Homo sapiens: one gene and its partner. The protein of the gene in region 2 purifies or fractionates together with the protein of the main gene of each other region. This does not show direct contact. Each region holds a gene or a part of one and is shown on either strand. Other genes may lie near its edges.

The links.
Region 1: the proteins of BSN (region 2) and UNC13A purify together in Homo sapiens (affinity purification with western blotting, with the first as the bait; one study listed by BioGRID). This does not show direct contact.

The regions. Positions count from the first base shown.
Region 1 is NC_000019.10:17,681,616-17,685,431, reverse strand, and holds part of UNC13A (protein unc-13 homolog A), read left to right. Parts: intron 1-3,816. UniProt on the Homo sapiens protein: Plays a role in vesicle maturation during exocytosis as a target of the diacylglycerol second messenger pathway.
Region 2 is NC_000003.12:49,651,746-49,655,561, reverse strand, and holds part of BSN (protein bassoon), read right to left. Parts: coding exon 1-3,816. UniProt on the Homo sapiens protein: Scaffold protein of the presynaptic cytomatrix at the active zone (CAZ) which is the place in the synapse where neurotransmitter is released.

The DNA of each region.
Region 1 (3,816 bases), on a different chromosome or scaffold from region 2:
CACTTGAGGTCAGGAGTTCAAGACCAGCCTGGCCAACATGGTGAAACTTTGTCACTGCTAAAAAATAAAAAAAATTAGCCAGGTGTGGTGGCGCGCACCTGTAGTCTCAGCTACTCGGGAGGCTGAGGAAGGAGAATCACTTGAATAGGGGAGGTGGAGGTTGCAGTGAGCTGAGATCCTGCCACTGTACTCCAGCCTGGGCAACACAGTGAGACTCTGTCTCAAAAAAAAAGATTCACTCATGTCCTAACACTCAGACATGTACCCATACATATCTGTTAAGGTCCCCAACCCCATGAAGCACATATATATTCATATAAGCACATGTCAAAGCCATGTGTGTATGCACATGACAACACTTGCCTGGACATTCAAAGCAGCCCCTTTCAACAAGTGGATGATGATGCATACAAGTAAATACACATTTGAGTATTTCATTGCACACAAGTGCATACATGTATGCAGATAAACAAATACAGCTGCCACAGAACTGCATCCATGTACACATGCAAACATCAATATGTGTGTTTTCCACCTAACATATCACCCACAAGCTCACACACACCAGTGTGTCTCTGATGTAGTGACACCCCACTCCTAGACACACATGTGCAGACTCCCACCTGCACTTAAATGGTGCACATACTCTGCACACATGCACACTCATATCCATGTAGAGGCAGGCACCTGCCTGCCCTGGTAAGATGAGCCAACTACTGCTGCAAATACCCAAGCAAGTACAGGCAAATGCAAGCTCTTGTGTATACACCCAGCACCAACACATAGCAGACCACCCTGTATGGTGTATGGGCCTTATCTCTGCCCGCTTCATTTATTTATTCATGTGGTGCCCCGCTGCTTCCCAACATCGTAATCCACTGACTAGGTCTTGGCAGGATCCTGAGGCTGTGAATGGTAAATGCCACCTGGTTCCTTCATGAAGTCACTTATTTTATTTATGCAACAAGCATTAATTGAGCACCTACTGTATACCAGGCACTGTTCCTGGCTCTGGGACCCAGCCCTATTCCTAGCCATCACTCCTGCACGTCCCATGGGGTTAGAATGAAAGAGATGAGGGAGGGCTAAGGGAGCTGAGGAGTGGGGTATCCAGGGCTCTCTTCCTCTGGGAAGCCTACCCTGATTCCACCACCACCATTTACTTGAGTCTCAGAAGATGTGATGAGGGGGAGATGAGCAGGAGGGAGATGGTGCTCTGGGTGGAGGGAACAGCATGAGCAAAAGCATGGTGGTGTGAAGGGTTACTTCCAGATCTTCCTATGTGCCTCACAGCATTTTGCACAGGCCACTTGATGTTTTGTTTTGTTTTGAGACAGAGTCTCACTCAAAGCCTGTTACTCAGGCTGCAGTGCAGTGGCATGATCTCAGCTTGCTGCAGCCTTGACCTCCAGGGCTCAAGTGATCCTCCTGCCTCAGCCTCCCAAGTAGCTGGGAGTATAGGCATGCACCACCACACCCGGCTGACTTTTTTCTTTTTAATTTTTTGCAGAAGCAGGGTTTTGCCCTGCTGCCCAGGCTGGTCTTGAACTCCTGGGCTCAAGTGATTCACCCTCCTCAGCCTCCCAAAGTGCTAGGATTACAGGTGTGAGCCACCACGCCCAACTGATGTTTTAAAGGCTCTATAAACATGTTATGAATAAATGACATGAACAAATCAGTGAATTTAGGTGAGGGTGGGTTTGCTTCACAACTTACAATAATATCAACAACAAACCCCATTTATCCAGCTTTTTTGTTTGTTTGTTTGTTTTTTGAGACACGGTCTCACTCTGTCACCCGGACTGCAGTGTAGTGGTGTGATCTCGGTTCACTGAAACCTCCACCTTCCAAGTTCAAGCGATTTTCCTGCCTCAGCCTCCCGAGTAGCTGGGATTACAGGCACGTGCTACCACACCTAGCTAGTTTTTGTATTTTTAGTAGAGATGGGGTTTCTCATCTCTACTAAAAATACAAATACATCTCTAGTGGCCAGGCTGGTCTTGAACTCCTGACTTCAAGTGATCCTCTTGCCTCGGCCTCCCAATGTACTGAGATTACAGGCTCGAGCCACCGTGCCCAGCCCAGCATTTCATAGGCATGATGTTAAGGATTTTTATGCCCATGCCCTCTTTAACTCTTACAGTAGCCCCATTGTACAGATGAGGAAAACTGAGGCTCAGGGAGCTTTAACAACTTGCCTGGTGGAACAGAGCCAGAGGTGGAGCTGACTGACTCTAGAGCCTACTGGGGTTGGCAGAAGTTTGAGCCTTCTCTCAGACCCCAGGACCTCGGAGACAGCCAAGTCCCTTCTGTGGAGTGATGTTCTGCCCTGGGATTGCCTTCTTCTTTCTATTTATTTATTTATTGGAGACAGAGTCTGGCTCTGTTGCCCAAGCTGGAGTGCAGTGGCACAATTTCAGTTCACTGTAACCTCCTCCTCCCGGGTTCAAGCAATTCTCCTGCCTCAGCCTCCTGAGTAGCTGAGATTACAGATGCACACCATCATGCCCAGCTAATTTTTTGTATTTTTAGTGGAGATGGGGTTTCACCATGCTAGCCAGGCTGGCCTCGAACTCCTGACCACCAAGTGATCTACCTGCTTTGGCCTCCCAAAGTGCTGGGATTACAGGCATGAGCCACTGTGCCCAGCCAGGATTGCTTTCTTCTCTCATGCATCTAGTAAACAGACATGTCACAATCTCTCCATTCATCGGGGCTATTCCCCTGCTCCTTGCCTAAGAAGCCTTCACACATCCCTCCGTTCCTGGCTACTCAGTCCCTGATACCCTCCAGCTAGGAGGAGCTGCATCTAGGTCTTAGCTCCTACCGTTCTCATGGGATGCCCTCCAGAGTTGCATCTTCAGGGCTGCAGCCTAACCCTTTCCCTAACCTGGCCTCACTTTTCTTCCACATACAATGGACCTCTTCTGCAAGGTGCCAATAAGGGCATCCTGGGTCCAGCAGGCCTGAGTGTGAATTGCTAAGTCCACCACTTCCTGGCAAGTCTCACATCCTCTGCATTCCTTGGTGTGCTCATCTGTGGAATGGGCACAGGAGTAGCATCCACCATCTACGTTTGCCAGAACTCTCTAATGAGGCTTGCAGAGCCCCTGGCATGACTCCTGGCCTACGGGAAGGCCCAATAATCGTGAGCAAAAGACATGAAAAATCAATGATGGGCCGGCCCCGGTGGCTCACGCCTGTAATCCCAGCACTTTGGGAGGCCTAGGCGGGCAGATCTCCTGAGCTCAGGAGTTCAAGACCACCCTGGGCAACATGGTGAAACCCTGTCTTTACTAAAATACAAAAAAATTAGCTGGGTATGGTGGCGCGCGCCTGTAGTCCCAGCTACTCAGGGGGCTGAGGCACGAGAATCGCTTAAGCCCCGAAGGCGGAGGTTGCAGTGAGCCGAGGTCGCGCCACTGCACTCCAGCTTGGGCTACAGAGTGAGACTCCGTCAAAAAAAAAAAAAAAAAAAAATCAATGATGATGTTTTTATTAATGGAGACTAAAAGCTTTCTGGAAGGCGGTTCTGAGTGCAGGACATTTCTGAGAGTCCACTGCATTCTGGGGCCCGAGGAGCGCTCCAAGAGGGGTCCCCCAGGGCCACTCCAGGAGGGAGCCTAGTTCGTTGAGGGTACACGGGTGGGACCGAGCATTCAGCACCGTGGACAGCGCCTGCCCGCGCCTCTGGGGGACAGCTCTTAGCTCAGCCTCCCAGGATTAATGGAGGAGGTGACGTCATTCCTTCCGTGAATTACTATTTAATGAGCACCTACTATAGGCTAGGCCTACTTCTAAGTGGTTCATGGTAAA
Region 2 (3,816 bases):
CCGATCCTCTGGGCATGGTAGTTGAGGCCAGCCTCAGCCAAATTGGTGTCAGACATGGAGGAGTACAGCCTACCAGGCAGGCCTTGTGGGTAGGGCCTCTGCTCCTCATGGGGCCCAGGCCCCACCACCCCCTGTGCCCGGTAGGTTGGGGGCTCAGGAGGCTCAGGGTCCCGGGGACCATAGAAGGGGCTGCTGCTTTGGCCAGGTGGGGCAGCATCTGCCATGCTCTTCTCAGGCACACTGGGGGCCGGGTGGAAGGTGCCAGTGCAGCTGCTGCCAAAGGGGAGCTTGTAGACCATGTCACAGCATGCCAGCTGGCTCTCAGGCCTCATCCCGGTAAGGTCCAGGGCACCCGCAGGCTCCTCTGGGAGCAGTGTGGTCACAGTGCCTGCTGTGCCCTCTCCCATCTGCACCACCACTGTGTGTGGCTTCCTGGCACCTGGCAGAGCATGTGACCGCAGCTCTGCAGGGGTGGCCCGGTGGGGCTCGGCACCTGGCTCTGGCACTGGGCCTGGCTTGAGGCCAATGCTCTGGGCGGTGCCCATCTGAGTGATCAAAACGTCTCTTCTGGCCAGAGGAGCTACTTGGTTGGGTAGGTTATATCTGGCAAACTTGGCCTCCCTGGGTCTTCCCCGGGGCCCACTTCGGTATGGGGCTGTCTGGACAGCCTGCTCTACTTGTTTGACCTGGGCCAGGCACACAGGGCTACCCCCACCCTGGCCAAAGTCAAGGCGGCTCTGGTAGGGGTCTCCATAGACCACAGGCTGCTTTTGTTGAGCCATGAACACAGACGAGGCCATGGTGATGCTCACGGTGGTGGCAGTAGCAAGGAAGGTATGCTCCTGGGCATTGAGGTTGATAACCAAGGGCTGCACGGCGGTCGACTGCCGTCCTGGGATTGGATCCAGGGCAAGACCATACTTCCTCGCTTCCACAGCAAGAGAGGTGAGGTCCATGCCCTGGTCAGTGAGGATGATGGGAGTGGGCTTGACAGCTGTACGGAGGTCTACCACTGCAGTGCCAGGGGTCCTGGGGCCTGGCTCAACCCTAGACGTCCCAGGGACAGAGGAGATCCGGCACAGGGAGATGTTCTCAGCAGGGAGGGCACCCCAGCCATATAGTGCCAGGGGCCCATCTGCACCAGCACTGGGCACCCGTGGAAAGCCAGGTGGCCCAGGTGGCTCTGGGGGCAGCTGAGACACACTCGGAGGTGTTGTCTGGCTGTAGCCATGGGTGGTGGGCTGGGTTTCAGTAGGTGAGCAGAGCGGGGAGGTGGAGGCACTGGCATGTACCATCCTGGTCTGGCTGGAGGCGTCAGATGCCAGCGTGATGACCATAAAGGGAGCCTCTTGAGAGGACTCCTGCCACACCAGGCGAGGCGTGCTGGGTCGATGTGGTGTTTGTGTACCCTGGGCTACCATAGGTGATGGAGTGGGGGCACCAGGGCTCCGTGGCATGTCTGAGGCAGGGGCTGGACTTGGCGTCTGTGTAGAGAACTCTGCTGTGGCCCTTGGGCCCATCTTGCCAGGGGAGAATGTGGGACTCTCTGAGGGGGAAGACGGGGAGAGAGGTGGGCTGGAGCTTGCAAAGTAGGAATATGCCCGGGAAGGCTGAGGAGTGCCACCCTCACCGTCACTCGCACTCAAGGGCTTCTCTCTAGCAGCTCGTCCAGCTGCAGCAAGGCCACTGGGGGCCTGGGGTAGATCCTCAGTTTGGGACCCATAGTTTGCAGTGGTTGGGCTGTGTCCATAGCTGTGGGCTGTGGAAGATGGTGAAGGACTACGCTCGGAGCCTGCTGGGGAGGCTGGAGTCATATATCCTCGTGGCAGCCCAGCTGGACAAGGAGCCACAGCTGTGGTGGCTGGGGTCCCAGGGCCCTGGGAAAAGGGCATGCCTATCTCCTTGGAGGCTGAGCTGGGGGAGGCAGGAGAGCTGTGCAGCTTGAGGGGGTCCTGAGTCTCCTTTGCAAAATGCTGAGTGACACGGACATCGGGAATAACTCGGCCCCCGCTGCTGTCTGAGGAGGTGGGGGTAGAGAAGGACACAGGGGCAGCGAGCTGGGTGGGACTGGTACCAGGGGTAAGGGGGCCACCATTTTGCTTCATTGGGTCCATGTATGCACTCTCAGCATTTAGAAACTGCTTCTCCTTCTTTTTGTCCTCAGCAAAAGCCAGGTCTCGTGAGGAGGCCTGCCGCATGCGGACTATGCTCTGTGATGTCTGAAGGATTTCTTCGTACACGGCTGCTCCCAGGCTGGCTGGCGTGCCCTCTGCGGCAGGCTGAGCAGCCTGGCCATACTCACGGTCTGTAGTGTCTTGATATTCGAAGGAGCCCAGGCCCCGGGGGCCTGTGGGCTGAGAGGGGCCGCCATGGGGTCCCCGGGCCCCTGCTGCCTGGCCTTGCTGCCTCTGGAGCAGCTCAGCTTTGCGCATCATCTCCTCATAAGCCTCCTCAGCGCTCTTGAGCGGCCGTCCGGAACTGGGAGTGGTGGAGCTGCCGGAGGGTGTCTCGGTTGGTGAGTAGAGGGACATGAAGGTGGGCAGGTTGTACTCACTGCCTGACTTGTAAAGCCGGCTAGGGCCACCATCCAAGGCCTCAGCCTCAGAGTCAAGGGAGGGTGAGGGTGAGTACTCAGAGCAGGAGGAGCGGTGTAGCTCCTCCATCTCGGCCGCCTGCCTCAGCTCCTCCGTCGGGGAGGCATCCTCGATGGGTGACAAGTTACTGGGTGGTGTCTTGGAGCGCTCTCGCCTCCGCTGGGCCCGCAGTTCTTCCTTGTCCCGCCGGGTCTTGCGGGCCGTGCTGCGGATGCGCTGCTGCTCCACCTCCCGCATCTTCTCTTGCTCACGAAGCAGCTCCTCTTCCTCCCGCAGCTCCTCCTCCTCTGAGGAGTCCTCGATGGTGGGTAGCAGGGGCCCGTGGGAGCGGTGCCGGGCCTTGCGCTGCTGCTTTGCTTCTTCTAGACGCTGCCTGCGGCTGGGGCTGCTGTCACTGTCCTCCTCTAGGGAGGACAGAGAGGTGGGAGAGGTGCCCGAGGTGTAGCTGGGTGTGGAGGCAGGCAATGTAGAGGAGTGCTCACCACGGGAGCGGTCCTCAGGGGAGCCCGTTAGGCTCTCCATCTCCAGCTCAGGCTCCCGGTCCAGACTGGGGTCTGGGCCTTGGCCCAGGTCCAACTCATGACCATAACTTCCCGTGCTGTTGAGCTCAATGGTCTTGAAGCGACGGAGCCCACCCTGCAGGGTCCCACTGCCATCGGTAGCCTCTGCTGAGCCTCCCTCAGGGAGCAGCTCCTCATAGCCCGTGGTGGCATTGTGGGGCAGGCGCCTCTTGGGCAGTGCTGCTGGTTCTTGGCTAGGCTCAGGCCTGGGTCTGGGGCCACCTTTCTGGGTGCCATGTTTGGCCAGGCCACGCCCGGAGGTGGCAGTGTCATCCTCCTCCAGGTTGTCTTCCTCGGCGCTCATCTCGAGAATCTGCCGTCGCATGAAATCCTCATCAGTCAGTTCTGCTGCCCGGGCTGGGGGCTGGGGTGGAAGAGGGGACAGGCCACCCTCACTGCTGTCCTCCACATAGTCGTGCCTCAATTGGCTGCCAAAGTCGTCTGAGGACTCGGCAGTGTCCTGCTGCTCTCTCCGGCGCCTCCACTCAGCAGAGTCTTCGTCTTCCTCCAGGATATCCTCCAGCTCCTCATCAGAGTCAAAGGCCTCAGGCGTGATGGACAAGGAGTGGGGCCGCTGCTTCTGCTCCTCGCCAGTACCGCTGGAGAGTGGCTTGCTCCGCTCACTTGGGGCCAGGCCCTGGGCCTGCAGCAAAGGCCGCATG